Linked DNA regions of Homo sapiens. The protein of the gene in region 1 interacts with the protein of each later gene in a biochemical or structural test. Each region holds a gene or a part of one and is shown on either strand. Other genes may lie near its edges. The genes, in order: HSPG2, FLT1, PRELP and FN1.

The links.
Region 2: the proteins of HSPG2 (region 1) and FLT1 form a complex in vitro, tested with the Homo sapiens proteins (one study listed by IntAct).
Region 3: the proteins of HSPG2 (region 1) and PRELP form a complex in vitro, tested with the Homo sapiens proteins (one study listed by BioGRID).
Region 4: the proteins of HSPG2 (region 1) and FN1 form a complex in vitro, tested with the Homo sapiens proteins (one study listed by BioGRID).

The regions. Positions count from the first base shown.
Region 1 is NC_000001.11:21,927,310-21,934,334, reverse strand, and holds part of HSPG2 (basement membrane-specific heparan sulfate proteoglycan core protein isoform b precursor), read left to right. Parts: intron 1-7,025. UniProt on the Homo sapiens protein: Integral component of basement membranes. Component of the glomerular basement membrane (GBM), responsible for the fixed negative electrostatic membrane charge, and which provides a barrier which is both size- and charge-selective.
Region 2 is NC_000013.11:28,317,107-28,324,131, forward strand, and holds part of FLT1 (vascular endothelial growth factor receptor 1 isoform 1 precursor), read right to left. Parts: intron 5,841-7,025; coding exon 5,684-5,840; intron 5,254-5,683; coding exon 5,156-5,253; intron 4,480-5,155; coding exon 4,357-4,479; intron 2,429-4,356; coding exon 2,317-2,428; intron 1,813-2,316; exon of another isoform or gene 1,423-1,812; intron 492-1,422; coding exon 392-491; intron 1-391. UniProt on the Homo sapiens protein: Tyrosine-protein kinase that acts as a cell-surface receptor for VEGFA, VEGFB and PGF, and plays an essential role in the development of embryonic vasculature, the regulation of angiogenesis, cell survival, cell migration, macrophage function, chemotaxis, and cancer cell invasion.
Region 3 is NC_000001.11:203,471,482-203,478,830, forward strand, and holds the start of PRELP (prolargin precursor), read left to right. Parts: upstream 1-4,324; 5' UTR 4,325-4,457; intron 4,458-7,349. UniProt on the Homo sapiens protein: May anchor basement membranes to the underlying connective tissue.
Region 4 is NC_000002.12:215,426,044-215,433,068, reverse strand, and holds part of FN1 (fibronectin isoform 1 precursor), read left to right. Parts: intron 1-1,104; coding exon 1,105-1,236; intron 1,237-2,216; coding exon 2,217-2,354; intron 2,355-4,730; coding exon 4,731-4,889; intron 4,890-7,025. UniProt on the Homo sapiens protein: Fibronectins bind cell surfaces and various compounds including collagen, fibrin, heparin, DNA, and actin. Fibronectins are involved in cell adhesion, cell motility, opsonization, wound healing, and maintenance of cell shape.

The DNA.
Region 1 (7,025 bases):
CTAGCCCAGGCTCCCAGCACACCTTGGACCCTCTTTGCCTGCTACCCTTGCTCTCATCTGCCCTTCAGTTTGGTCCGGAGCCAGTGGCTTATGGGGAAGGGTTGGGCACAGCAGCAGGGTGAGATGGGCCTTAGGGAGCTCCAGGCTTCCCCGGGACGGGGGACAGGACCACAGGAAGCTGATCTGTGATTAAGTGTGGGTGTAATTTCAGCTGTTGGGAGGTGAGGAGGCTTGCTGGAGGAGGGGGCTGGGCCTGGGTGACTCGGCAGGCCTTGGCCTGCTGACCCCTTTAGGGCGGCCCTGCAGGGGACAGGCGTCTTGAGGGAGCCTCGGTGGTGATTAAGGTGTTTTCCAGGGCCTAGGAGGGAAGTCGCTGAGATACCTGTTTCCTGCCTCAGCTGGATTTCCTCACTGGGGAGGCTGCCAGCTGAACTGCAGGAGCCTCCCCTTCCTGGCGGTCCCTCAGCCCTCCTCCACGCAGCCAGCTGCTCTGTCACCTGACACTAGCCTACTTGTTCCGTACCTGCAGCCGGCACAGGATGGGGTTTTGAGTGTGCCCTGGACATTCCCGGAGGGAAGGAGGGCAGGCTGCAGGTCTGTCTGCAGGGTAGAAGCTGGAAGGGGCAGAGATGGACCACCCCCCCATCCCTTAGGCCCATTTCCCCCTGTCTGGGGAGTTGTGGCCCCTGCCTGGCTTGGCCCGGGCCTGCTCTCAGGCTGAGCGCAGACAAGTTAGGATCTGTGGGTCTGAAGCCCTGCCCGGGAGACGGTGGAAAGAAGGTGGCAGGAGGTGACTGGGTTCAGGGCCCGGAAGACGGGTGAGCAAAGTGGAGGGGAAGGAGCTCTTGGGGTGCCAGGCTGGATGATGACACAGTAATACGGGTACTTCAGACTTACCCAGTACCCACTGTCTGCTCTGAGTTTCTCAGTGAATCCTCCCATTCACCTGTGTTTCCTGCTCACCACCTCCCTGCGGTGCTCAGAATTAGGTCCCAGCCCCTGACTTAATATAGCCTACGAGGCCCTGCAACACCCGGCCTCCTGCCACCTGCTCCTCTCAAACTCCTCCAGCTATACCAGTCTTTGTTTCTTTTTCTTTTCTTTTTTTTTTTTTTGAGACAGGGTCTCACACTGTCACCCAGGCTGGAGTGCAGTGGCACAATCACAGCTCACCGCTGCCTCAACCTCCCACGCTCAGGTGATCCTCCCACCTCAGCCCCCTGAGTAGCTGGGACTACAGACACCCTCCTCTACACCTGGCTAATTTTTGTATTTTTTATAGAGACAGGGTTTTGCCATGTTCCCCCAGGCAGGTCTCGAACTCCTGGGCTCAAATGATCCACCCCCTTCGGCCTCCCAAAGTGCTAGGATTATAGGCGTGAGCCACTGCACCCAGCCTTTTCTTTTCTAATGAATATAAAAATTTAAAACAAATAGAGATGGGATCTTGTTGTATTGCCCAGGCTGGTCCCAAACTCTTTAACTCAAGCTATCCTCCCACCTCAGCCTTCTGAAGTGCTAGGATTATAGGCATGGGCCACCTCGCCTGACCAAGGCTTTGTTTCTTGAGCATGTGAAACACACTCCCACCTTAGGGTCTCTGCGTCTGCTGTTCCTTCTGCCTGGGACATTTGTCCCCGTAATATCCATATGACCCTCTCCCTCTTTCTGGTCCTTACCACTCTTCCCATAATGGCTGTCTCCTTAAACTGCTTTATTTTTGTTCTCACAATTGTCTGGCCTGTATTTGTCTGTATTTGTTTATGTGTTTATCTGCTTCCTCCTGCTCAGTTTAAGTTCTACGAGAGCAGGACCTCATTTGTTTTTGTTCACTGCTGTATGCTTAGCACCTGGCAGGTAGTAAGTGCTTAGTGAATATCTTTGTCGAATGTTTTAAGCTGTAGCTACTAGCCTGATCCCCATTCTCTAAGCAGAGGACATTGAGGCACTGAGAGGTTACGTAACTTGCCCAGTGACTTACATATCCACACACTCAGAGATGCTGCAAGCCAAGTTTTGAATCCAGACGAAGCTCTCCTAATCACGCCACGTACTGCCCCATGTGCTTGTCGTGGGCAGTCAGTAGATATTGCTACAACTTGTCACAGATGTTGATTAAGAACTCTGGTCCCAAGTAGTACAGGGGCTACCTCAGGCAAGGAATATCAGGGATTGGCTCGGGGACAGAAGCTCTTAGGTTGGGTATGCCTCAGTGTCCGTGGGGTCTCCTAGGGACGCCTGTGCCTGGAGGGGAAGCCTAGGAACTCTAGGGTGGTCATTTTTAGGTTTGTTAATTCATTAATGTTCTCATCAGATATTTCCTGGGACTCTACAGGCAGTTGAATTTATCCAGGGACTTTTAGGCCTGAGTGGGCCAGGCTGGCCCTGCCCAGTGTGGGAGGTCAGGGGCCCCTGCCCCTGCCATGCTGCTAGTGGGGGAAGGGGAAGAACACCCTCCTGGTTGTCCTGTGTGGAGCCTGCGCTGTTTTTTTCTGGCTGTTCCCTGGGGGCTCAAGGTTTAGGGTGAGTCTGCAGAGCTTCAAGGGCTGCCTGGCCTTGGGGTGAGAGGCTCAGGAGGGAGGGCAGGAGGGCCTGCCCAGGCTATGGAAAGATCTGGAGCAATGATTCAGAGGCCACTTGGAGGCCAGAGGTGTGGGCTCTGCACCCTCAGACTACTTGGGGTATATGGGAAGGGTTCCCAGCCCTGGCCTGTTGCCCCCCTCCCCTTCACCCAATCCAGTCCCAGCTATGAGGGGTCAGACTGGAGGAGGAAGTGAATATGACTTGGTTCCCCGGCAGCTTCCCAAGTATCTGCTGGGCCTACCTCTCCCTGTCCCAGGGCCTACCCTGGCCTTTTTCTCCTCTCGCTCCTGCTCCTGCCAAGAAGAGGGAGGCTGCGCCGAGGGTCCCGGCCCTGCTGGAATGTTGCTTCCGCCTGGGCCTTGGCCTCTTTGGCCCTGCCACCCCCTCCTGCTCCCGGGGCCAGCTGCCCCAGCACCCAGAGCTGGCTGACTGAAACCCAGAAGTATGTGTGGAACTCACTTCGCGGGGAGCCGCCGGCCTCACTGCCCAGCCTGGTGGCGTCAGGGCTGTGTCAATAGCAGCCTTGAGAGGGGTGTGGCTCGTGGCTGCTGGGGTGGCCGGGTCGGGGGTGCTGTCATGAAAGCCCTGAGAACAAGGTGGCTCTTTGAGGCCTGGGAATGTGAGGCCTTTGAGTCTTGCTGCCCCCAGAACCACTCTCCCTTCCCTTCCATGATGCTCATCTGTGCCAGGCCTGCAGGAACCTCAGAGCATCCCTGGAGGCATCTGTGGCATCCTGAGATAGCCTTAGGACCAGCTCCTAGCTCCTGACCAGGGCCCATTCCCTGAGCCATGAAGGAGGGTGTCCTGTTGCTCTGGGTTTTAGGGGAGTATCTGGTGCGCAAAGCCTTGCAGAGTGTGTTGAATGAATGAATGAACAAATGATGTATGTGATTAAGCGTTTTTTAAAATTCATTTCACAAATATCTGTGGAGCATCTTCTATGTATCTGACTGTGTTCTAGATCTTTTTTTTTTTTTTGAGATGGAGTCTTGATCTGTTACCCAGGCTAGAGTGCAGTGGTATGATCTCGCCGCACTGCAATCTCTGCCCCCCAGGTTCAAGAGATTCTCCTGCCTTAGCCTCCCAAGTAGCTGGGATTACAGGAACACGCCACCACGTCCAGCTAATTTTTGTATTTTTAGTAGAGATGGAGTTCCACCATGTTGGCCAGGTTGGTCTTGAACTCCTGACCTCAAGTGATCCACCCATCTTGGCCTCCCAAAGCACTGGGATTACAGGCGTGAGCCACTGCACCCGCCCTGTTCTAGATCTTGAGGTTACCGCAGAGAATAAAAATGTCAGATTCCTTCCTCTCATGTCACTTGCGTTATAGCTAGTGCAGGAAGACAGACAATAAATGAAATACATCAGGTGGTGATAAGTGCTCAGAAGAAAAAATAAAACAGGGAAGAGGGCAGTGAGTGATGAGGCGGGGTAGGTAGGGTGGGGTGGTAGGAAAAGCCTCTGATAAGATAAATTTGAACTGAAGGAGACCTGAAGTAAGTGAGCGGGTGAGCCTCGCAGATATCAATGGAAAGGGCATTCCAGGCAGAGGGCACAGCTAGTGCAGAGGCCCAGAGGTGGGAGTGTCCTTGGCATGTCTGTGGAAAAGCAAGGAGGCCCGTGGGGCTGGAGCAGCATCAGTGAGGGGGAGCATGGTGGATGCAGCAGGCAGGGGGGTGGCAGAGGGTGATCAGCAGAGCTTTGGCCATGGGAAGGACCTTGGATTTGCGTCTGAGTGAATTGAGAAGTCACTGAAGGGGCCCGGTGTTCCATAGGATTGCTTTGGCTGCTGTGTGGAGAGGAGCACGGGGAGGGTCCAGAGCAAAGGCAAGGAGGCCGTGACCCAGGACAGACGATGGGAGCTCAAGCTAGGACCACGGAGGTGGGAGATGGTTGAATCCCCAGTACATTTTGAAGATGGGTCACCAGGATTTGCTAGTGGGTTGGATGTGGGGCGGGACAGAAAGAGAAGAGTCCGGGATGCCTCCACAGTCTTTGGCTTCAGCATCCCGAAGGATGGAGCTGCCACTACCTGAGATGGGAAAGTTCCAGGAGGAGTGGGCAGGAGGTGGAGTCCAGAATTCTCAGAACAGTTAATTTATTTGTGTCTTCTCTTACGATCTCTTGTTTGGACAATAAAAATTCCTAAAAAAAAAAAAAAAAAAACCGGCAGGTGGGCCAGGAGTGGTGGCTCACACCTGTAATCCCCACACTTTGGGAGACCAAGGTAGGAGGATCACTTGAGCCCAGGAGGTGGAGGTTGCAGTGAACCATGATCTTGCCACTGCGCTCCAGCCTGGGTGATAGAACGCGATCCTGTCTCTTAAAAAAAAAAAAGAAAAAAGAATGGCAAGTGATGGAGGGGACAGCATGGGTGGGGGTTGGACTGGCTCACATGCCTGGCAGTCATCCCCCTACCCATCTCCAGCCAGGAGCTCCCCCGTCCCCACCCAAGCTGGGGCCTCTGCATTGGCTTATGGTGTAGGCGGAGGGGATCTTGCTGAGTGTTCATTTGTGGAGTTGCAGACTCTGCCTTAGAACTCCACAGCCGGAGCTCATGGCTTGTAGATTTATTCTTACCCCCTCATCTAGAGTGGAAGCTGCATGAGGGCAGGGACTTGGCTTTGTTCATTGCTGTTTGCCTGGTGCTAGGCAGATAGTAGGTGAACACATTAAAACTTCAAGTGAGGCTGGGCACAGTGGCTCACAACCTGTAATCCCAGCACTTTGGGAGGCCAAGGCGGGCGGATCACCTGAGGTTGGGAGTTCGAGACCAGCCTGACCACCATGGAGAAACCTCGTCTCTACTGAAAATAATAATAATAAAAAAATCAGCTAAGCATGGTGGCACATGCCTGTAATCCCAGCTACTCAGGGAGGCTGAGGCAGGAGAATCACTTGAACCCGGGAGGCGGAGGTTGTGGTGAGCTGAGATCGCGCCATTGCACTCCAGCCTGAGCAACAAGAACAAAACTCCATCTCAAAAAAAAAAAATCAAGTGAATAAAGGATGGGCGCGGTGGCTCACGCCTGTAATCCCAGCACTTTGGGAGGCTGAGGTGAGCAGATACTTGAGGTCAGGAGTTCGAGACCAGCCTGGCCAAGATGGTGAAACCCCGTCTCTACTAAAAATACAAAAAAGTTAGCCGGGTGTGGTGGTGCATGACTGTAGTCTCAGCTACTCAGGAGGCTGAGGTAGGAGAATCGCTTGAACCTGGGAAGCGGAGGTTGCAGTGAGCTGAGATCATGCCATTGCACTCAAGCCTGGGCGTCATTGCGAGACTCTGTCTCAAAACTACAAACAAACAAACAAATTCAAGTGAGCAAATTAATGGCTTTGAGGAAGCCAGCAGGCCAAGAAGGCCCAGGCTCCTTGCTGAGATTGGAAAGGGGCGTGCTCTGGCCCCTGCACTTGGGAGCTGCCTGCCCAGCCATGCTCTCTGCAGGGCCCCAGAAGATGTGGGACAAGCTGGGATGTCCACTCTGCCCTTTTTGACTTGTCTGTGTCCTCATTGGTCTCAGAGCCACTTCCCTGGGCACTGTGGTCAAGGGAAAGATGTGGGCTCAAAAGGCCCTGCCTTCAAGTCTTGGCCCAGCCCTGACTGGCTCTGTGACCTTGGGCAAGTTGCTTTACCTCTCTGAGCCTCAGTCAAATGTGAAATGGGGAGGCCTGCTTCCTGGTGGTTATGAAGTAACCAGGTGGATGCACCTTGCTCAGTGCCTGGAATGTGGCAGGTATTTGACAATCCGTGATTGCACTAAGTCTCGTTCCTGCTAAAGACAAGGCCGGTGGAATATCTGAGGCAGGGTTCCCAGGGCACAGCCGGGCACGCCTTCTCTATGACCCAGGTCCTGTACTGGGCTTGTTGAATGAATGGCTGTGTAAGGGGATTGTCCATTCCCTGGGCCTCTTTCGCAGTCTCAGAGCTCCGGGTGTAACTGCCTCTGATCTGTCACTGCCCCTCCTTCGCCTACCGAGGCCGCAGCTGTAGGACAGAGTCCATCCTTCCACCCTGATTGCTCCTTCCTGGACTGGGAGAAGGAGGGGGGCACACCCCAGGGTGTGGCCTGGGAAAGGCTGGAGTCTTTGGACGCCTTGTCCCCTTCCCAGATGTGTGCAGTTGGTGGGCTCTGAGCAACAGGAGGTGTGGCCAGGGGCTCCCATGGGTGCAGAAAGGATGTTCGTGCATCCTGAGGGTAGTGACAGTGGGGGGGGTGGGGGATGTCCTGGGACCCCATCCTAGCCCTGTCCCCCCCTGGCCTACACTGGAGGAGGCAGGACCTTGCCTGGGGAGCTCTGGGCCAACCTGCAGTTGGTCCTTACTTGGTGGGATGTGGGGCTGCTCGACTCTAAATCTGGCTCCCGTGGCCTCAGAGAAACAGCAGGACTCAGGAGAGAGAGACACACAGGCCTGGGGATCTCACCCCACCCCACCCTAT
Region 2 (7,025 bases), on another chromosome or scaffold:
TCCCTGGGGCTGCTAGGCCTGTTTGGCTCCCACTCCGTGAGTGAGGCCAAGGTCTTGCATTCAGTTCCTGGGTGGTCTGTTTGTTTTGCCTGGATTCATACCTAGAAACTGAATTTCTAACTTCAGTTCCCAGCTAGAGCCCTTGAAAAGTCATGTCAGTGGTCAGGACAGGAAATAGGTAGGGATGGGTCAAGGGCCACGTGCCCCACTGCAAGAAAACACTCCCAGCATATCTGGGCCTGATGGGCTGAGGGGAGCATCTCTAAAGGAAAGAAGAACCTTGGCATCTTCCAAGACTGGGACTCTAAGAATCCATAAAACATCCCCTCTCAGGAATGCCCTGGTGAAAAGCGAGCTGTCAGATGGGGAGCAGAGGGCACCAAGGGCTCACATTTCAGGAGTAGAGTACTCAGGAGCTCTCATCCTCATGCCTTCCCTCAGGCGACTGCAAAAGTCCTCATCCATTTGTACTCCTGGGTATGGAGACCCACCTGCGGGAGACAATGTGGAAAACACAGGGCCTGTTATGGCTTAAGGGTACAAAAGACCAAGAGGGGACAATTCAGTGTTTCTTTCCTCCCTTTAAAGCTACGTTTTAGTAATAAATTCCCAGGGATTACAACAGATCTCAACATACCGTACAACACACAGAGAAGCTCAGCAAATCCTTGCTAAGGACACCCGCTTGGTTGGGTGGTCACATGGTGCGGGGCACCTGGTGCTCACAGGCTATTCCTATGGCTACTTCTGCCTGTGTGGTCAGAGGAAGGGGTGTCGTCTGAAGGGTCCTTGCCTTCTCCCCACAAGTAACTAAAGAAGTCCCATCATTAGAGACTCATCCTTTGGGTTAGTGAGCTTTTGTTTTTTTTGAAGAGACGGGTCTCCCTCTGTCACCAGGCTGGAGTGTGGTGGCATGATCTTAGCTCACTGCAGCCTCGAACTCCTGGGCTCAAGCAATCCTCCCACCTCAGCCTCCCGAGCAGCTGGGACTCCAGGTGCTCACCATCACCACACTTGGCTTGGGCTTCTTTTTAAAAAGCCAATAGACTTGGGATAGGCTACATAGGAATCATTCACACTTGAGTGGGAATGACTTTAATTCACTTTCTTGCAACCTTCCTATAGTACCAGGGCTCTAGGAGTTGTGACAGGCCTGAGGGAAGGGGGGCTTTGCGCTCCAGGGCTGGGCTGAATGGAGTGGAATGGGGTGGGGGCTGCCCGTGGCCAGGAGTCTGCAGACCTAAGGGCGCCAGAGAGGCCTAGGCTTTGCCTTCTGCCAGCTTTACTGCCCAGGATTCCCCTGCAACCTTTCCTTTTGGGGGGATTCTTGCCAGGGCTGGGGGTGGCAAGGCCTTCTAATGCACTCTTGCTCTAGCCCTGCAGCCTCATCTACCTCAGCATTTGTTTGTGTGCATTTTCTAGTGATTACTGCTGGTAGGAAGCAGCTGGGAGGCGTGCAGTGCTGGCACCGTGTCATCGCAGGACCACTGCAGCCGCCAAGCTGCTTTCAAAGACTGGAAGCAACAGGTGCCTGTCATCGAAAGCAGGGGAATGATTTTCACACATTACAGGAAACCAGGGATGTTACTGGGTGACTTTTATTTGCTGTGAAAGGCAAATTTTTGGCAAAGCCCAAAAGACTCTTGGCGAGAACTTGAGTTTTAGAGGCCTCAGATCATCACTGTGTGTCTGCAAGCAGATGTGGGCTCTGCACGCATCTGTGTGCTTTGAACAGGACTTCCAGCCACCCATAGTGGATGTTATTGCAAGCAGAATAAATACAACCAGTGTTGTTTATTGCTTATCCTGTATAAACCAGTGTCCAGAGCCATATCATGTGTTCATATCAGAGGCACTGGAAAGGTCTCCTGTTTCTAACAACACCTTCCTCGCTGGGGCAGCTGAGCTTGTTATGGCCTTTCCTAGGAAGAAATTCTGAGGTGGTGGGAGACGCGGGGAGGGAAGCGGTAAGGGCATTAGAGGTGTGGGTGTTGAGGAATTGGAAAAGGACAGAATTGGGCAAAGTACAGAAAAAGTACTTTGCTTCAGACTTTATACCCTTGTTCATGATCGTATAAAGCCCTTTTACATGACCTTGTTCTGACCTTGTTCATGATCATATAAAGCCCTTTTACAGTAGAGGGCAGACATGCGTACGCCATTACTCATCTGAGAGTCTACATGGGCCCATTACACTTTAAGAGTTTTTTGTTACAGTAGGTTCTAATCTAAAGGCTGTCTAACCAAAGGACATTCAGCAGAAGATGCAGACATTTATTTCTGGGCTGTTTGATTTCTTCCTTCTCCCAAATTTACCTAAGGAGAAGATTTCCCACAGCAATACTCCGTAAGACCACACGTCGCTCTTGGTGCTGTAGATTTTGTCAAAGATAGATTCAGGAGCCATCCATTTCAGAGGAAGTCGAGTCTAGAAGAGGGCAAGGGGGCCTTGAGCAGAAGGGCATGAAAACAAAGCACATTCAACCCGAGTGTCCATGGGGTCACCTCCCAGATAACATACGGCCTATAAATCATTTCCGAGAGCAGCTCTGGTTTCCTAACATAGAGAACACCATAGTATGCAGTGTTACGCTAAAAGAGGGAGCTAGAGTGCTATACTGAGTCCCATGAAGGCAGTATATGTTCAGTAAGCCCCTCTGATGTGTTCAGCATGTCCTTATCTGCATAGCTCTGTGAGAAATCCTCCCCCACAAAGAAAGCCTGCACTCCACAGGGACACACTCAGGGCTTGGAAAAGGAAAAGAGTGATCTGAATTTGAAGATATCCTGAAAACTGGTGGTGGTTTCCAAAAATTTTTCCAAAGGAGGATTTTGAAAGCATTCCTATGCAAAAAGACAAGATTTCCAAAGTCACTGAATAGGGAGAGTGTGCAAAAGCATCAGAAAGAAGAGAAGAAGGAAAGAAGTCAGTGTTGAAAGAGAATATACAGTTAGTTTTCAAACATGTAGACAAATCTTCCTCTCTTTCAGATAGCAGGAATCCCAGTGAGTTAGGCCTCACCACTTTAGATGATGGGGATTGATGGGAGGTATGGGATAAAGGAGAGACAAGGAGAAAGGAAGTGGGAGGGGCAGGGAGGCTGACTCAGATACAGACGAACAGAAAGGAGGGGAGGACTAACATGAAGGTTGGTGCCATCTCTCCAGACCAGGGCCCCAAGGAAAGTCTGTTTTCCTTTATTTTTATTTTTTTATTTTTACAAAGGATCAATGTGAAGTCATATGTTTTCCTTCTATACAACAGATTCTGGTGCAGTGGCTCTCGAAGTATGGTCCTGGGACATGCTGTGTCAGCACCTTCTAGAACAAACATGTCCAATTCCTGGCCCGCGGGCCACATGTGGCCCAGGACAGCTTTGAATGCAGCCCGACACAAATTCGTAAACTTTCTTAAAACATGATGAGATTTGTTTGCATTTTTTTTTTTTTTTAGCTCATCAGCTATTGTTAGTGTTAGTGTATTTTATGTGTGGCCCAAGATAATTCTTCTTCTTCCAATGTGGCCCAGGAAAGCCAAAAGATTGGACACCCCTGGTCTAGAAACTGGTTAGAAATGCAAATTCTCAGGCTCCACCCAAGAGTTACTGACTCAGAAACTCTGGGGGGTGGAAGGCTTGTTAGGCCAGCACACTGTAGCGTAACAAGCCTTCTAGGTGATATGTATGTTCAATTAAGCTGGGAACCACTACTGTAACTCATTGGCGCCCAGACATAAGCTTAACCCTCAGGGTATATAGGCTGAGGGTTAAGGAGAAGGGAGGACATGGGAGGTCATCCACAAAAGTGAAAAATAACACTATGTCTAAAAACAAGCAGGGAAGAGAAGCCAGTACGAGCCAGCGGGGAGATGCTAGGCATGGAAGGCCATGGGAGGTAAACAGTCTCCTCCATAGTCAGCTACTGCTGACGGTCTTCCCCGCCCTTTCCTGAGACAGATACACCTGCTGAATCAATCATCTGGGTTTATTTGAGGGAAAGAGTCCAGGCTGTTCTTTTCAGTGGTACAAGGAATTCCCTCAGGATTCAAAGGAAGGTAATGCTAAGGTCTCACCCAGGCCCCACCAAACACTTCTCAGGTTAGCAAGTCTCACGCAGCGCTGCCCAAAGGACAGGTGGGAGGCCAGGCATTAGGGAAGAGCAGAAGCAGGAGACAGTGGCCTTTCTGAGCCTTACACAAGGGCTCTCTGGGATGCCGCTCATCTGGACTGTTTGTCTTCACAGAAAGCCAATGATGGTTTTCAGGGACTACAGCTGAGGAAGTGTAAATATTTACCAAGTCTGTGGTTTAAAAGTGATAGGACACACATGAGTCAAATAAACATCAAACTGACTTACATCTCCTTTTCTCACATAATCGGGGTTCTTATAAATATCCCGGGCAAGGCCAAAATCACAAATCTTCACCACGTTGTTCTCAGATAAAAGAATGTTTCTCGCTGCCAGGTCCCGATGAATGCACTATAATAAAACAGTTGCATAATCAATGCATTTCCTTAACCTAACCAACTAATTTCCTACACCTGTCAGTGTCATTATCTTAATTTGGGAATCCATTTCACATGCTGTGAAGGGAGCACCTCTCGGTGCACACAGAGTTACCATAAACATGAAGAGCCTCTCTACAAATACAGGTCCCCAAGCCCTCAAAGTCAAGAAATGGTCTGAATCCACTGGGCTACTATTTGATCAGCGAAGCTGGTTATCTAAGATTTACCAGTGGGCAAACTTTCCCCACAGTCTTTTATCCTGAGCTGCCAAGATGAGATCTTTCTCCAGCTGCAGTTTTGTGGGAGGGCCCTATATGGCTATATTAATAGTAGCTCTCCTATGAAGTCATGTCTTCTGAGATTTGGGCCAGATTTGAAAATATGCCAGAGGATACTGTGGAGAGCCGATGCCAGGTTTGTCTAGTCTGAAACCTGTGAGTTTTCCCCAGAATTAAGTTCTATCCACTGGTATCCATGACTCCTCATTCTCAAAACTCCTCATATCAAGGCAAATTAAGGCACTTGCAGTGGTGTTTGTTCTACATTTAAGAACATAGGTATCAGCAAATACTAGGAAAAATGAATTTATAGCAAAGGTGTGTGTCCAGCCCTGGCAGAGAAGAAAAACAGTAAACAGCAAGACTGACCTTTCTGGAAGACAGGAACTCCATGCCTCTGGCCACTTGAAAACTGTAAGAAATCAGATCTTCCATAGTGATGGGCTCCTTGTAGAAACCGTCAGAATCTGGAAAGCATTAGAACCGTAACTGTTTGTAATGGCTCTTGTTATCCCACCAAATCCCAGTTTATTGGAACAATGTTAGCAAAACATAAAACAAACCAACAAGTAGATCAGAGTTCATTTTTAAGAGTATTTGAGTTTCAACATGAACACCAGAGATTTTTCCAGGCCTCCAGCCCACTTTATCCAAGCATGGGGGCAGGGGGATGATCCATTAAGATGAAAATCCCTGAGGGGAGAAAACGGTACAGTTCCCTGTCAAAATTAGTAACTCTGTAAATTATCTTAATTCAAATCTTATCTCCTCAGGACATTACCATTCGAGTCTCCCACGGATGTTTATTAGAGTGATAAATAAGAAAAAAATTTCAGAGATGCATAGTATGTTGTAAAAATATCTCAGCGCGTAGGACAGGAAGGAATTAATACCTACCCTCCTCTTCCTCAACATCACTCAGACTTTTATCTTCCTGAAAGCCGGAGCTCGCAAAGCTTTCGCTGCTGGTGACGCTATCTAGTCTTGGTTTCTTGCCTTGTTCCAGGCCTGGCTCCATTTTTTCTTTCTTAGGCTCCATGTGTAGTGCTGCATCCTTTGAAGAGACCGAAAAGGACCCAGGTGAAAAGGAGCTCCAGCACAGCAGTGGGAAACCAGTCCCTCAACTGGCAATCGCCTGATGAGAAATGAGAGCGTTTCACTTCTCAAAATGGATCGTGAACTAGCACAGGGGCCCTACGGTGTCCAGGAGCCTGACTACCTCTGGAGTTGCAGAGTCTATTGTGCTCTTGCCTGGGCTTCTAGACAGCATCTTAGATCAGATAAAAAAAAAAAATTAAGAGTGGTGGGTATTTACTGAATGCTTACTCTGTGTGAGCTGGTATATTAAAAGCTTTAGGTACATTTCTTGTTTAGTGTTTCCAACAATTTTACGAAGTAGTTCTTATTTATACATGGAGAAACAGGTTCAGAGAAGTAAAGTAATCAAATTCACATGCAGCTAATAAATAGCAAAGCTGGCCGGGCACAGTGGCTCACGCCTGTAATCCCAGCACTTTGGGAGGCCGAGCCAGGTGAATCACGTGAGGTCGGGAGTTTGAGATCAGCCTGACCAATATGGAGAAACCCCGTCTCTACTGAAAATACAAAATTAGCCGGGCATGGTGGTGCATGCCTGTAATCCCAGCTACTCAGGAGGCTGAGGCAGGAGAATTGCTTGAACCCAGGAGGTGGAGGTTGCAGTGAGCCGAGATCACGCCATTGCACTCTAGCCTGGCCAACGAGAGCAAAACTCCATCTCAAAAAAAAAAAAAAAAGCAAAGCTTGAACCCAGGATTGGTCGATGCCCACATCTGTGCCCTTAACCACTTTTCCATGCCACACGCCATCTTGTGAAGGATGACATCACTGAGAGGAAAGGATCCTCAGTGTGCTTGGTGCTTCACTCTGTAATCCCTAGGAGGAGTTATAAGAGAAGGCTATAGTTACCAATTTCTCAGGTTTCTTTGGGGAAGGAGGGAACATGGACATTGCTTTTTTTCTCTTCCATTTAAACAAAGATACAGTTTGATCCTAACAAGGGTAGCAATGGCCTTTCACCCTGGACTGCACATCCAAGCCCTGGTTCATTTGGCTCTTCCATTAATCATGCGATCTTGGGCAAGTCACCTTACTTTTCTGAGTTTAATTATCCTCTTCTGAAAAGCTCTATTATACTATTATTTTATGATTCATAGGAAAGGAGTTGTCAGTTCTGGGTGTTCATGGGAAACCAGAAAAG
Region 3 (7,349 bases), about 180 Mb from region 1:
ATATTGGGGGGTGGGGGCAGAGAAAGAATCACCAAAAGGACCAATATGATCATCTTCAAAAGATACCTGTACCACTAAGTGAAAATAAAAGTGCATAGCTGCTTATTTGTTACTAGTGTGTACCTTAAATAAATCTGTGAGGACACAAGAAACTGGCGCACGGTCCTCTGGGGGAAAGTGAGTGATGAGGGGATAGGCAAGGGAAAAGACTTTTTCCCTATGCAAGCTCTTATACCTCTTAGATTTTCAATCAAGAGAATGTATTACCTATTCAAAAAATAATAACCTTTTTTTAAAAAAAGAGGGTGACAGAGAATCTCCTTGTTCAACCCTCTTAAATTCAATGAAACAGACCCCTACTGAGCACCCAGGGTGTGCCAAGCCGTTGGTGGGTGCTGTGGGTTATACCATGATGAACAGGATGCTGTCTCTGCCCAGCAGGGGCCCACTCACCCCAGGCAACCCAGGCCCCCCAGGCTGGAGGGTGGGACAGGCTGCCACAGGACTCACACAGCTTCTCCCCCGTTATGCATTTGCCCAGACCCCACCCACCCTGGACTGGGAGCCTCAACTAGTACAGGGTGAGGGTCCGTCCAGGGCCAGCCTCTGTGGGTCCTGATGACCACTGAGCAGTTTGAGCCAAACTCTTCGGGCCCACACTGCTCCTTCCCGGCAAAGTCTCAGGACCACCACGGGGGAGGTGGGAAGCTTGAGTACCTCCCTCCTGTACTTCTATGGAAAGAGTATTACACAATTGTGTCCTTTCTTCTCTTGCTTTAAGCACTCACTGCTTGTAACCAAGGCAGCAATTACTGTGAGGGTCAAAGAAATGGTAAGCCCCCCAGATGGATTTCGGTCTGGATGGGAAGTGTGGGCAGGTCCCAACTCTGCAAATGCAGCTGAAACCCACCAACTTGGAGAGCCCCCTCCCTCTGCTGCCTGGCCCTCCCTGCATTCTGTCTCCTAACCATGCTGCCCCTAGCCCTCTCCTAGGACCAGGCAGCAGTAGCAGCAACAATGTGCATATCTGGACTTCTCACCATATGCCCCAGCATTCACATCATGTGCCTGTGACTGTTCTCTGGCTACACCAGCAAGAGATAAATACCTCCCCTGGGTTGAAGACACACCACTGGTGTCCCTGAGACTCTAGGAGAGTAGAGGAGGCTCTTCCTGGAGGATCCACATAGTCCCAGGGTGCATGAAGCCAGTGAATCACAAAATACTCCCCTGCCATTGCTGCCAATGATCCTTGTGTTATCTTGGGTATACCCTGGGAGGGAGATGGGGCAGATGAGAAAACCAAGGCTCGTGTGCTGAGACCTACTCACCAGGTAGCTAGAGAACAGCAGAGTTGACATCTTAATCCAGGTTTCCTAACCCCAAACCTTATACTCTCTCTTCACAGTATTGTTGGAAGAGCACTGAGAGGTCATTTGGTACAACCTCGTGTTTTATAAATGGCAAACTGAGGTCAGAGAGGGAGAGAGACATCTTCAAGGTCACACAGCATGCAATGGGGCAAAGCCAGGTCCCAAGAACCTGGACCCCTGTCTACCAGGATGGCGACTGTGTTGAACTGGGAAGTGCTTGTCCTGACTAAAGGTGTTCAAATCCTTTTTTTTTTTTTTAACCAATGCTTCAAAATATACCAGTAGGGTTTGTGGGAGTGGGGAACACAGAAGAAACAAGATTGGCCATGAGTCGGTAATTGTTGAAGCTAGGTATTAGATAATGGGGATATTAATACTATACTGTGTAAATATGTATACGTTTTAAAATTTCCACAAAACTTTTAAAAAATTAACGTGCTGTCAAAAAAAATTAGGTACTCAAGCCATATTAGGTCCACAAGCCACTGATTAGCAAACTCTATTCTGGACACTCCTGAATATCCTGCTGGCCATGTCTATACTTCTTTCCAATTCTCTCTGCATAGCGTGGGATGCGGGAGATAGGAGAGGGAGGAAGGGAGATAACTGGCTTAGGCAGGGCTTGGAAGTTGGCCATCCATTCCCGAGAGCATAGACTCTTGGGATTTGGATGGCTGTCATACAAATGGATACAGGTGACACCCCTGCCCCTGCCCATACTCCACACTCCTTCCAGTCTGTCTATCCCCACAGACACTCTACCCATCATCCCTGTACCTCACTGTACTTTGCTCACCTTATTATTTTTTGAGACAGGGTCTTGCTCTGTGACCCAGGCTGGAGGGCACTGGCGTAATCATAGCTCATTACAGCCTTGGTCTCCTGGCCTCAAATAATCCTCTCACCTCAGTCTCCTAAGTAGCTGGGACTTCAGGTACACACCACCACACCCAGCTAATTTTTAAATTATTTGTACAAACAGGGTCCCCCCATATGGCCCAGGCTGGTCTCGAACTCCTGGGCTCCATTAATCTTCTGCCTTCGTCTCCCATAGTGCTGGGATTACAGACATGAGTCTCCGTGCCCAGCCAGTCTTTTTTGCCCTCTATCATCTACCACCCACCATACCAAGGGAAACAAGCAAATCTGGCGTCTGATGTTCCCGGCCTGCAGAAGACGCCATATCCCATCTGGATGAGAAATGAAGCACATGAGCAGCCTGGCAGAGCCACAGTTAATGTGAACCTGGAGAGGAACCGTGCTGTCTTCCAGCAAGACCTCACCAGCAGGGCGTGAAGCCATGAGATCTGGGGTGGAAGGGGGTTGGAGAAAGGTCTGGGTTTTATTTTTCCTTCTCCTTTTCTTAGGCTAATTACCATTCATCGCAATCCCTTTCCTAAACCCTAATATCTTCCCAGTTTATAAAGTGCTCTCACATTTACAATATTTAATCTTCCCAACCCTGTGAGGTCAATATTATCCATATTTTGTAAATGAGGAAACTGAAGGTCCTCATGATCAAGTGATTCACCTAAGACCATAGCTTGTGGGTGGCTGAGCCCAGGGCTGCAGACCCTAATTTTAATGTTCTCTCCTCTACCCCATATTGCGGAGGGCAGGCAGGCAGTCCCCTGTCATGGGGCTCTGCAGCTCTCCATGGAACCAATAATGGAGAAGAAAATTGCGTTGCATTTTCTAAGTAGTCAGCTGGGATGGCAGGAATTTATTTATTTTATTTACTTATTTATTTTTTGAGACAGAGTCACGCTCTTGTTGCCCAGGCTGGAGTGCAGTGGCACGATCTTGGCTCACTGCAAGCTTTGCCTCCCAGGTTCAAGCAATTCTCCTGCCTCAGCCTCCCTAGTAGCTGGGACTACAGATGCCCGCCACCACACCCAGCTAATTTTTTTGTATTTTTAGTACAGACAGGGTTTCACCATGTTGGCCAGGTTGGCCTCAAACTCCTGACCTCAGGTGATCCGCCTGCCTCTGCCTCCCACAGTACTGGGATTACAGGCGTGAGCCACTGTGCCTGGCCATGGCAGGAAATTTTGATGGGCATCTACTTACCTGCAAGTGTGTTGTGCTTTCTTAATTGAGGGGCATTGTTAGAGGATTGTTAGAGGTAGTGGTGTTACTTGACTGGGTCTTCTGGGGTGTTGATGTGCACAGGGGAAATTTGGATTTCCCATCACTTTGTGTGATGACCACACAGCCCCTAAATCTCACCTAAGTGTGATATGGAGAAGCTGAAAGAAGCCACTACATTGTCCACATGAGCTAGGAACAGTGACTTTAGGTCTTACATTAAATCTTAATTCTGCCTTAACTTTGCTGTGCAACTCAGGCCAGACTTCTCCCTCTCTGGTTCTCAGAACAGCCCTGGCAGCCAAACCGAAGTTATCTCCTATGCCAGCCTGAGACTCCACTCCCTTTGCAACCTCCTGGAGAAGATAACTTAGGGAAAGACTGTCACTGCTCAGAGGAAGCATCCCAAACCCCTCACTGGTTTAGGAATTTAACACTACCGAGCAACGGCCCCAGAAGGCAAGGCGATTGTTAGGAGGAATTAAACAGGCTAGTGCTGGACCCAGCCATCCAGTCCTGGCTTACACAGAGGTTGCTTTTCATGCCTTTTCACTCTGTTAATTTGGCTTGTTTTCCAAACATGGGTCAAACAACCCCTCTCCAGAAGCGGCAGCAGCAGAAGGAAATGTTATTAAAAATGAGTCTGTTAGTGGGAATGGTGTGTGGATGAAGTCTTTGGGAGTTTTGGCTGCCAAATAAAGACTTTATTGTCATTCCTCCTTTCCCAAGCTCCCTCCCTCTCTCCTCCCCTCCCCTCCCTCCCTCCTCCCTCCTCTCCTCCCCTCCCTCCCTATGATCTGCCCCTCCCTCCCCCCAAGCTAACCTCCCCACCCCAATAGGATCTGGTGGAAGAAAAGTCAGGCAAACACAAGCACGCACACACCACTGGGAGATCAGATCTTCTAGCTGGCTCTCTGCTGCCACAGCTCCGCCGAAGGGAGGGGGTGGAAGAGGAGGACTAAACTCAGAGCTGAGAGGAGAGGCAGGTGTGTGCAGGTAAGCCCAGTTGGGAGATGGGCAGGAGACTGGGAAGAATCTTTCATCCAGTAAGTTTCCTCCAGCTCTGTCCATTTATTGATCTAGTCTCTATCCTCTCACTCCTTCCTTCCTCCCACCTCTTTCTCCTCTCAAATGAGTTCAAATTTAGTCTTCCTAACTTCTTTCCTATAGCCTCTTCCTTTTCTTTTCATCACTCTGTACCCCTATATTTGCTTACTGCAAAAGTTAAGCTTTCCTGCTGCAGATGTTTGTTGTAGCACAGAGAGCCACGCTGCACAAAGTGTTTCTACAGATCAGGTGTTTCCATAGAAACTGGACTCCAGAACCCATTTCTTTGCACCTTTTGTGTATTGTCACACATTGTGGAAGTCACACACATCACACGGAGGCTGCACGTTCACTACCATCACCCCACACGACCATACAAAATGAAGACATCCTGTCCATTCACCTCTGCCCTCTGCATCTGACATGCAGAGCTAGACCACATCATCACCAGACACCAGCAGACACACACACACATGCATGCACACATGTTCCCTGCATCTTGTCTCTCGCCCTCTCACACACACCTCCCTAGCTGTAAGAGCAAAGATAAAGTACGTTTTCCCACTGAGATGGCAGAGCCAGAAGAAAATCTTGCATCCCAAGTCCAGGCCGAATAGGGAGGAGATAAGCAAGAGCGGGAGCTGGAAGGGTTTCTTCATTATTTAGGGCTTCACTGGGTAGGAGGGAGAGAAAAACGGCTTTTTCCAACCTGCACAGTGTCTTCTCAGCAGCTTTCAATTTCTGTCTCACTGGTCCAAACCACTTGGCTTTTGGAAAGAAAGAAGAAAGCGACCCAGTTCCCAATCCTTGAAGGTCCTAATTCCCAGCTCTGGGGACAGTTCATTTTTTTATTTTTTTTTCCTGCAGGCAGCCAGAAAAATATTTTTCTTTAAAGCCGTTCTGAAATTATTCCAACCATTTAGGTTGGCAAAAGGTCCTGTGGCAGAGGAGAAAAAAAAAAAAAGGCAGCAGTTCCTTAAGCAGTTGGGGAGGGGAAAACTGAAGGGCGGCCCCTCTCCTGCTCCCCTGCTCATTCCTCTCTATTAATAGAGAGGGTCTGTCCCAAGGCAGGCGGGGTGTAGGGAGATCAGGGGTCCCACACACAGCTGATCTTCACAGTCACCTAAGGGCTGGAGAGGGAGGAGTGTGGAGGGCTTACTAAAAATACAGATGTCGGCTCTCACTGCAGATCTACTGAATCGAGACCCAGGAATCTTGTTTTAATACTTCAGGAGATTCTGATGGTCCACCAGGGCTCGAGAATCAGGGGCCTGAGAGAGAGCTTTGCTGTAATTTTTAAGCCCAAGACTCCGGCAGTGTTAGCTGGGCAGAAGGACTGTGTCCTGGAAAAGGAGCACCAGAGTGTCCCAAATAGGCCACCTCTTTTTTGGGGAGTGGGAGTAAACAGGGAAGAGCTGTCTCCCTCTCTCCTCCTTGCAAGCACAAGCAGCCATATATACCACAGAGGAACATTCCAGTAAGAAAGTTCCCCCAAGATGGCTCCACAGAGCTTCTGTTTCCCCTCACCTGTTAATCTGCCTGCCCCAGGACCCCAGGAGCATGTGCTGGGCCCTTCCCCTGACCCTTATAGGTCCCTGCTCCTCCTTCCCAGCAGCCACCTGTCTGGGCTCTCACAGAGGGTGAGCTGAACACTTTCTTCATGCCCCCTCCACCTCCCTAGTGGGCAATCCCATTTATTGGGCATGTGAGTGAAGCATTTCAAGGCTGGAAGGGGCAAAAAGCTGGGAGAAGTCAAGAATCGCAGTGGAACTCCATGGCCCACTGAGGAAGGCAGACTTGCACCTTCTGTGGCCAGTGTCCCCTCACCTGTTGCAGAAAGCATCGGTGAGAAGTTGGTGAATTAGAAAGACAGAACAAGCTTTCCCTAGGTGGCTGGGGACTTCCAGAGTCTCCTCAGTTAGTTGTTTCTGAGACCCAAGTGTGATCTCACAAGCCACAAAGGGGAGGAAGTTGCTCTGTGTGGAAGAGCTGGTACCCCACTCACAAGGATCCCTGCCTTCGAGCAGTGCATGGGGGCTGCCCTCTAGCCAGGCTGGAGGGAAGGAGACCCCATTACTTTGAAATAATATCAACAAGACCTTAACATTCAGAAAACACTCACTTTGCATGTATTAACTCATTTAACCCTCAAAACAGAAAAGAAGGTGTTAGTATCCCCATTTTATAGAGCAGAAAAGCAATTGCTTTGCCTAAGCCTACCTAGCTAAGCATCTGAATGAAGAACTGCAGGATTGGGTCTCAGATCTATAATCACTCAAGGCATCAGACACACTCTTCTAGGCTTTCTTCAAGGCTTGGAGATGCTGGGGGAATGGGGCAGAGGATATGGTAGGTGGCGGGCTGTCAGAGAAGAGTCGTCTCACCCTGGTTTCTTCCCCACCGCTCAGAATGGAAAACTTTCTCTTCTAAACTAGTGGCCTGAGGCCAGAAAATCTTCATTCTGTTTACACTTTGCCTTGTGGTAGACACTGGGGAGACAGATGGTCTCTCCATAATAGTGTTATTTTTATTTTTAGCACTTTTTGATCTGTAGTGCATTTTAAAGCTGCTAACTGCACTTGCTTCTGACAATTGGGTAAGGAATATAGGTATAGGGAAGATTTTTTTATTCCCATTTTACAGATAAGAAAACTGAGGCCCAGAACAGGGTTCGCATCACTAGGTAGTGGTGGAGGGGTGAGAATCTTCTCTCCTAACTAGTATGCACCACAGGCTCTCCTCCCACTGCCCCAGGCAAGCTCATCCTTGTATCGTTTCACCTTCCTAGAAAGGGGCATCTTGAAGTCATCATGCCCCCATAAGGCTCCTTTGTTATCTCAG
Region 4 (7,025 bases), on another chromosome or scaffold:
CATAGTAGAACCAAGAGACCTCTTGGGTTCCATTTCAGTAAGACATGCTTAGGGGAGTTGCCCATTTTAAATCACCTGGATATCTTCAAGCTAGACAAATCATGAGACTTTTCTGCAGTGACTGGGAAGGTGTTCATGAAGAGTGAACCAGCCATGTGTTGTCTGGTCTTCATGTTTGCAATGCAGAGACCTCTTGCACCTCACAGAAACAGTCTGGTTTCTTGGTGACCAGTAGGTTATACCCAGGAAGCAGATGTCACTATTCCTAGGGATAATACAAAATTATTAACCCAATAGAGTTTGCTAAGGAACTTTGGGAACCGGGCTGATTCTCAACTCTAGTTTAGCTAAGGCACTCTTTCCAGTATGATTCACTGGGTTACCAATAGATTCTATTAAGATAGTATTTAAGTTTTTTAATCCATTCTTTAAATATAAGTCGTCTTAAAGACTTCTATTCAAAAGAACAAGTCCCGTGTGAATAGGCCCAATCAACTTTCCCCATATTTCATGTTAGGGTTTATCCAAGTTCACAGGCAAATCGCAAGAGGCAAGGGTCCATAGTGTTTACAATCTAGTTCAGCATTTGAATGTGCCATTGGGCTTAACAACTTAGAAAACTACCAGGATTTCCACACTTTATATGCATATGTCTGTTTGCTTTCCACCAAAATGACATTTCTATCCTAGGGTAAAATACAGGCTCTCCATGCTCCCAAAAGCTGGAGTGCTGTGCCTGATGTGGCCTTTTCACTGAATTAGTCTCAGTCTTAGCCTGCTGTGTATGAGTGAAGACCAAGCCTCCCAGCCTTTCTTTTCTGCTTAGGACCCAATTTCCTGTGATCTCTCTGGGAAAGCAGGATTCATGACCTCTTCCTTGCCATCCAGATTTCTCTGTGGTTTTCCATTGTGTTCTAAGCAAGACACTTAACTGAATTGACTCCAAGTGACCAGACCTGTTAACGTTTCCCCTGTCTCTGATGGGAAAGCTGTTGTCTGTGTCTCTACTTTAGCCAACCTAAGTACCTACCATGGGTGGAATATGAGACCAAAAAAAAAAATCTGTTCTGCCCTCTCCTAACATTTTCGTTGTATCTTCAACAGACCGCTGCCATGAAGGGGGTCAGTCCTACAAGATTGGTGACACCTGGAGGAGACCACATGAGACTGGTGGTTACATGTTAGAGTGTGTGTGTCTTGGTAATGGAAAAGGAGAATGGACCTGCAAGCCCATAGGTGTGTGAGTCTTAGGGCTGAGCAAGAGCTGGGATGCTTAGTTCTAATGTGGGGTTGGACCAGAATCACATCTACATAGGTCATAGACCTGAATTCCAGTGAAAACCAATAAAGAAATGGGAATTTTGTTTGAAATAATGAATTATTATATAATCCATAGTCTTCTTACAGGAGTTAGATCAAAAAGTACTGACTACACATAGAAGTCTTAACTTTGCTTCAAAAGCATAAGGTAGAATTGAAAGATTTAGAATGGAGTCATTTCTTTTACCTAATAGCTGATCTCAGATTCCTCCTTCGTCAAGATATAATTTATTTAAAAGAAAAAAAAATGACACTTTGGACACATTTCTATATGGAATGTCCTGGACCGAAACATGAAATAGTGTGTGCTTGTCACACTCTGCTCATTTCTTTTCAAATTAAAAGTTGTTGAGCTTCTTTGGATCTCAATCCTCAGTTGAATTTTGTAAGTACAAGCCTGAAAGTTTCTGGCTATAAATTTTACTCTGTTTACTTGTCTTCTAATTTAGAGGTTTTTGTCTTGTTTTGTATTGTTTTGCTTTCCAATATTTAAAAATAGCTTTCTTTGTCATTGTATTTAGGCCACTCAAAATTCATAATTGGTCATTTATAATTAAGATTGGAATTTTGCATATGTAGTCTCCCACAGACTAGATACATACATAGATCCTTGCTACTGGAAATGCTGCTGGGAAGTTTGGGGCTCGCTGAAAATATGTAGTCCATGTACTTATTAGGAGAATGGAATTTCTGCCTGCCAACTCAGCTTGAGCTTTCTTTTGCCTTGGCTACTTACTGTGTGCTTAGATGCTGGGTGTGTCATTCTTTCTGAACAGAGTGCCACTTAAAAAAAATGTGGCTGAATTTTTGCTTACACACTACACTTTAAATTACAGGGAGCTTGCACAATTCAAAATAACCTTTTTTTCCTGTTTTTCTTCCAAATTTCCCTACAGCTGAGAAGTGTTTTGATCATGCTGCTGGGACTTCCTATGTGGTCGGAGAAACGTGGGAGAAGCCCTACCAAGGCTGGATGATGGTAGATTGTACTTGCCTGGGAGAAGGCAGCGGACGCATCACTTGCACTTCTAGAAGTATGTTTTACATCTTTATGTTAAAGATTAAGCCAGGTATTGTTTTCTGGATTCCTAGAGAGAAGGGTAATACTATGTTACTCAGAACACATCCAGTATATCAGCATGCTTTGGTAACTTCTGGAAGTCAAGAAAACTTTCATAACCAACTTATTCCGCATCTTCAGAGAAGACTACATAAATAGAAAAACATATCACTTTGATAAGGTTCAATCTCAGCTCACTGCCACTGACATAGAGTTGAACAAAAGGTTTAGGTTTCCTTCTATGTTTGAAATTTAAATAGGGCACATTCACAGGCTAAATTGATAAAATTAAAAAGAATTTATCCCATAAATTAAAATGATTTATCTACTCTGGAGTTAGGGATAGTGTCTCTGACCTAACGCATTTGATTAGTGCTGTAAAGAAGCTGGCCTCTGGTGTCTTTACTGCTCCTTCTAAGATTGTCTTGGGGTCTTAATTGTTGCCTTTGGGTTTGAAGGCTCCTTTTTTGATATTGTAAACTAATAACAGCTAGAGAGTTTGTTGAAGTAAAACAGCCATTAACTACTGGTGTTGTAAATAAGTTTAAAATCAAATCCAAATAATTTGAACCTGTTTTATTTATCTAGCTGAACCCATTTAACTACCTTTAACATAGCCATCATCCAAATTCAAATTCTTTGCTAACAAAAATAGGTCTCTCATGAAAAGTGGTAACCATTTTGACCAAAGCTTTCCCAGAAACTTGCTGGTTTATTAGATATTTTGCATTTAAAATGTTACTGTGATCATCAGACTTCCAAGATCTTTGTGGCAATATTTTAGCTTAAGACAAATTAGATGTCTGATTCAAACCTTATCTGTTATTTAGAACTCTTTAAATAGCAAGTTGGGAAAAGTTTCTCAAAGAGAAGTCATTTATTCCAGAAAATTTTATAAGGACTTACTTTGTTCAAGGTATTATAGGGGTGCAGATATGAAATGAACATTAGCCCAGCCTTCAAAGAGTACTTAGGGGGTCAGGGAGATGAGAAAGTCTTATACATATTTATCATCTGCAAAACACAGTATTAAAGATTTCAACAGAAATACTGAAAGTAGTGCTATGGAGGTTCAGGGGATGATAATACTTTTCGCTGGGGATTTGGGAAAAAGCTCTAATCAGTAATTATACCTTCATGCAAACTTCTATTCTTGTGGTAGATGGATGTGGGTGTGTATTTGTTTGAACCTACATCAACTATTAATTTTTTTTCTCTAACCCAGGAGTTGCAACAATATCCAATTCACAAAGACATCAGATCCTCTATACTCACATCGTGGCACAGAGCAAATTTGGATTATAATTTAAATAATCTATTTACCAGATAAATGCACGCATAGACTAATGGTCATTTAGTTACAAATTATCATTTTATGTTGATCCCACTCTTCCAGTGGAGGGCTAACACTGAATAATTTGGGGCTATTTTGCTAGTGATTTTTAAATACTGTAGATGTTTGGGTATAGGGGAAGGGAAAATAATATTTTAGTCAAAGAAATTGTGCATCCTCTACATTTTTTACATAACAAATGAAGAAAGAGATACTACCACCTTCTTATAGCTTCTTTGTAGCCATTGGTGAAGACCCTTTGATACCTGCTTGCCTCCCCATTGTTATAAGCTTTTTTTTGTTTGCTTGTTTTTTTTGTTTTGTTTTGTTTTGTTTTGTTTTTGAGACAGTCTCACCCTGTCGCCCAGGCTGGAGTGCAATGGTGTGATCTCAGCTCATTGCAACCTCCACCTCCCGGGTTCAAGCGATTCTCTTGCCTCAGCTTCCCGAGTAGCTTGGATTACAGGCGCCCGCCACCACAGCCGGCTAATTTTTTTTGGTATTTTTAGTAGAGACGGGGGTTTCACCATGTTGCCCAGGCTGGTCTTGAACTCCTGACTGCAGGTGATCCACCCTCCTAAAGTACTAGGATTACAGGCGTGAGCCACCGCGCTTAGCCTGTTTTTAGTTTTCTAAAGCAAGGTCCCTATTGAAAGGCAGGCCATAAACAGTGATGACTAAGAAAAATCCTGGAAGAGCCTGAGAAGGAAAAAGATGAAATATAATGCCAGAGAATGAAGTTAGTCAAAGGAACAGTGTGAAAACAATAAATAAATAGATAAATGAAAATGTTATTTGACAGAGAGATGAAACTAGACTAAACCATTCAGCTGCCTTTCCACTGTAACAAATGTAATTTCATCTTTCAGAAGTGTAATACCTTGCAGCACCAGAGCTGAATATGAACATATTACCAAAAATAGATTACCAGGCATAGATAGCATTCCTTTTTTAAGTTTGAATTGACCACTTGCGACTCTCGACCTGATGTATGTATGTGCTTCCTTTGTGACACAGATAGATGCAACGATCAGGACACAAGGACATCCTATAGAATTGGAGACACCTGGAGCAAGAAGGATAATCGAGGAAACCTGCTCCAGTGCATCTGCACAGGCAACGGCCGAGGAGAGTGGAAGTGTGAGAGGCACACCTCTGTGCAGACCACATCGAGCGGTGAGGCACAGGACGAGCAGGGGCGGGAAATGGGGAAGCAGGTCAAGAAATATTTCCGCAAATCCATCTTTCCTTTGACATGCCATTTGAGGATAATTTGCAGTGTTTCAGCTAATAACCTAAGATAATTTACACATTATTGGTTGTTAAAACTTTTTTTAATGTCAAGTTTTAAATTTTTCAGAAAAAAAGAAAAATGACATACAAATAAACCTTAGGGGGAAAAAAGCCAGATTTATCTCCAAAAGATAAAACTGAGTTTTAAAGAATGCTAGCATCATAAAACTTACCATGGATAGATCACGCACACACGCACACACACACGTATTTTGAATATCCAAAGTTCATTTGAAAGGAAATGAGAGTTATAATTAATTATATGACTACCTGGTTCTTCTGCTAGGAAAGGACAAAAAAAGTGCATTTGGATTTTTTGTTTGTTTGTTTTTGAATGAAATATACTTCCCTGTCCCGACATTGAACTCTTTTTGTAGTGGAAACCATCCTTTATATGTGGTTTCTATGCTCTGGCAAACTTTGTTACATTCTATAAAGTAACACACAATTATTTCCTTCATGTATTGGCATTCGAAATTTTAGAAATTCAGAGAGGACTTAGAGATGGCCATGAAAGACATGATATCTAAGCATTCTTTTTAAAAAACAAGTTTTAATCATTTTTGGCATGAGAAAAAGATTTTTACGTCATAAATGTTTCATAAAAATCTGAAGAGAGAAATATGGCCAACAAGGACGTGCACTCCTCTCATTATTTTTAATATGTTTTGATTAACTTTTTACTATATGATGTGCCAACATCATTACGTAGTGTCTCAGCCATCCTTCAATTAAAAATATTAATTGTTCTAATTTTTCTTCTTTTGATGAGTTTTTGTCTTGCTTTGAGCACTTATGAAGGTGAACAAGATTAGATTTGATAATATCTTTGAGTTATTTTATTATCATTAATAAAATTGCTACTGGCCAAAAAAAATTATAAACATCGGCCACGCGCGGTGGCTCACGCCTGTAATCCCAGCACTTTGGGAGGCCGAGGCAGGCGGATCACGAGGTCAGGAGATCAAGACCATCCTGGCTAACACGGTGAAACCCCATCTCTACTAAAAATACAAAAAATTAACCAGGCGTTGTGGCGGGCGCCTGTAGTCCCAGCTACTCGGGAGGCTGAGGCAGGAGAATGGCATGAACCCGGGAGGTGGAGTTTGCAGTGACCCGAGATCGCACCACTGCACTCCAGCCTGGGTGATACAGCGAGACCCCATCTCAAAAAAATAAAATAAAATAAAAAATAAAAAAAATTATAAATGTCAGTCTACCAAAATAGATTAAAAGTGTAGGTGGGAATTAAATGGGGATAAACACTCAATAAATGTTAGCTATATATGAATATTGCCAATACTGAAAAGATTCCATTGTTCAAAAAAGTTTGAGAAGCAATGGGTTAAACAAAATGGAACCTGCTCTGCAGAATCTGTGTGTTCCTTTACATCATACTCTCCATGGTAGAGTGTAGGGGATGGGCGCCATGTCTCCCTAGTACGTTTGACCTTGGGATTCTTTGTCTGTGAACATCTTTGGGTTCTAGTGTTCAGCAGCACTTAGGGAGGCACTGAATTCAGTGTACCTTTGGTCTAGCCTCAGCCCTGATTCTGTTCTGCGGTGGGCCCTGGCCTTCAAGAGAACAGATATCTAAAAGTTGAAAGAAAAGATCGGCCGGGCGCGGTGGCTCACGCCTGTAATCCCAGCACTTTGGGAGGCCAAGGCGGGTGGATCACAAGGTCAGGAGATCGAGACCATCCTGGCTAACACGGTGAAACCCCGTCTCTACTAAAAATACAAAAAATTAGCCGGGCGTGGTGGCGGGTGCCTGTAGTCCCAGCTACTCGGGAGGCTGAGGCAGGAGAATGGCGTGAACCCGGGAGGCAGAGCTTGCAGTGAGCCGAGATTGCGCCACTGCACTCCAGCCTGGGTGACAGAGTGAGACTCCGTCTCAAAAAAAAAAAAAAAAAAAAAAAGAAAAAAGAAAAGATCAACACATCCTGTTGTGTTATTCTGAAAGGAAAGCTGTCTTAAGAGGATCAATTGGTTTTAGAAAAAACACAATAGAATCACAAA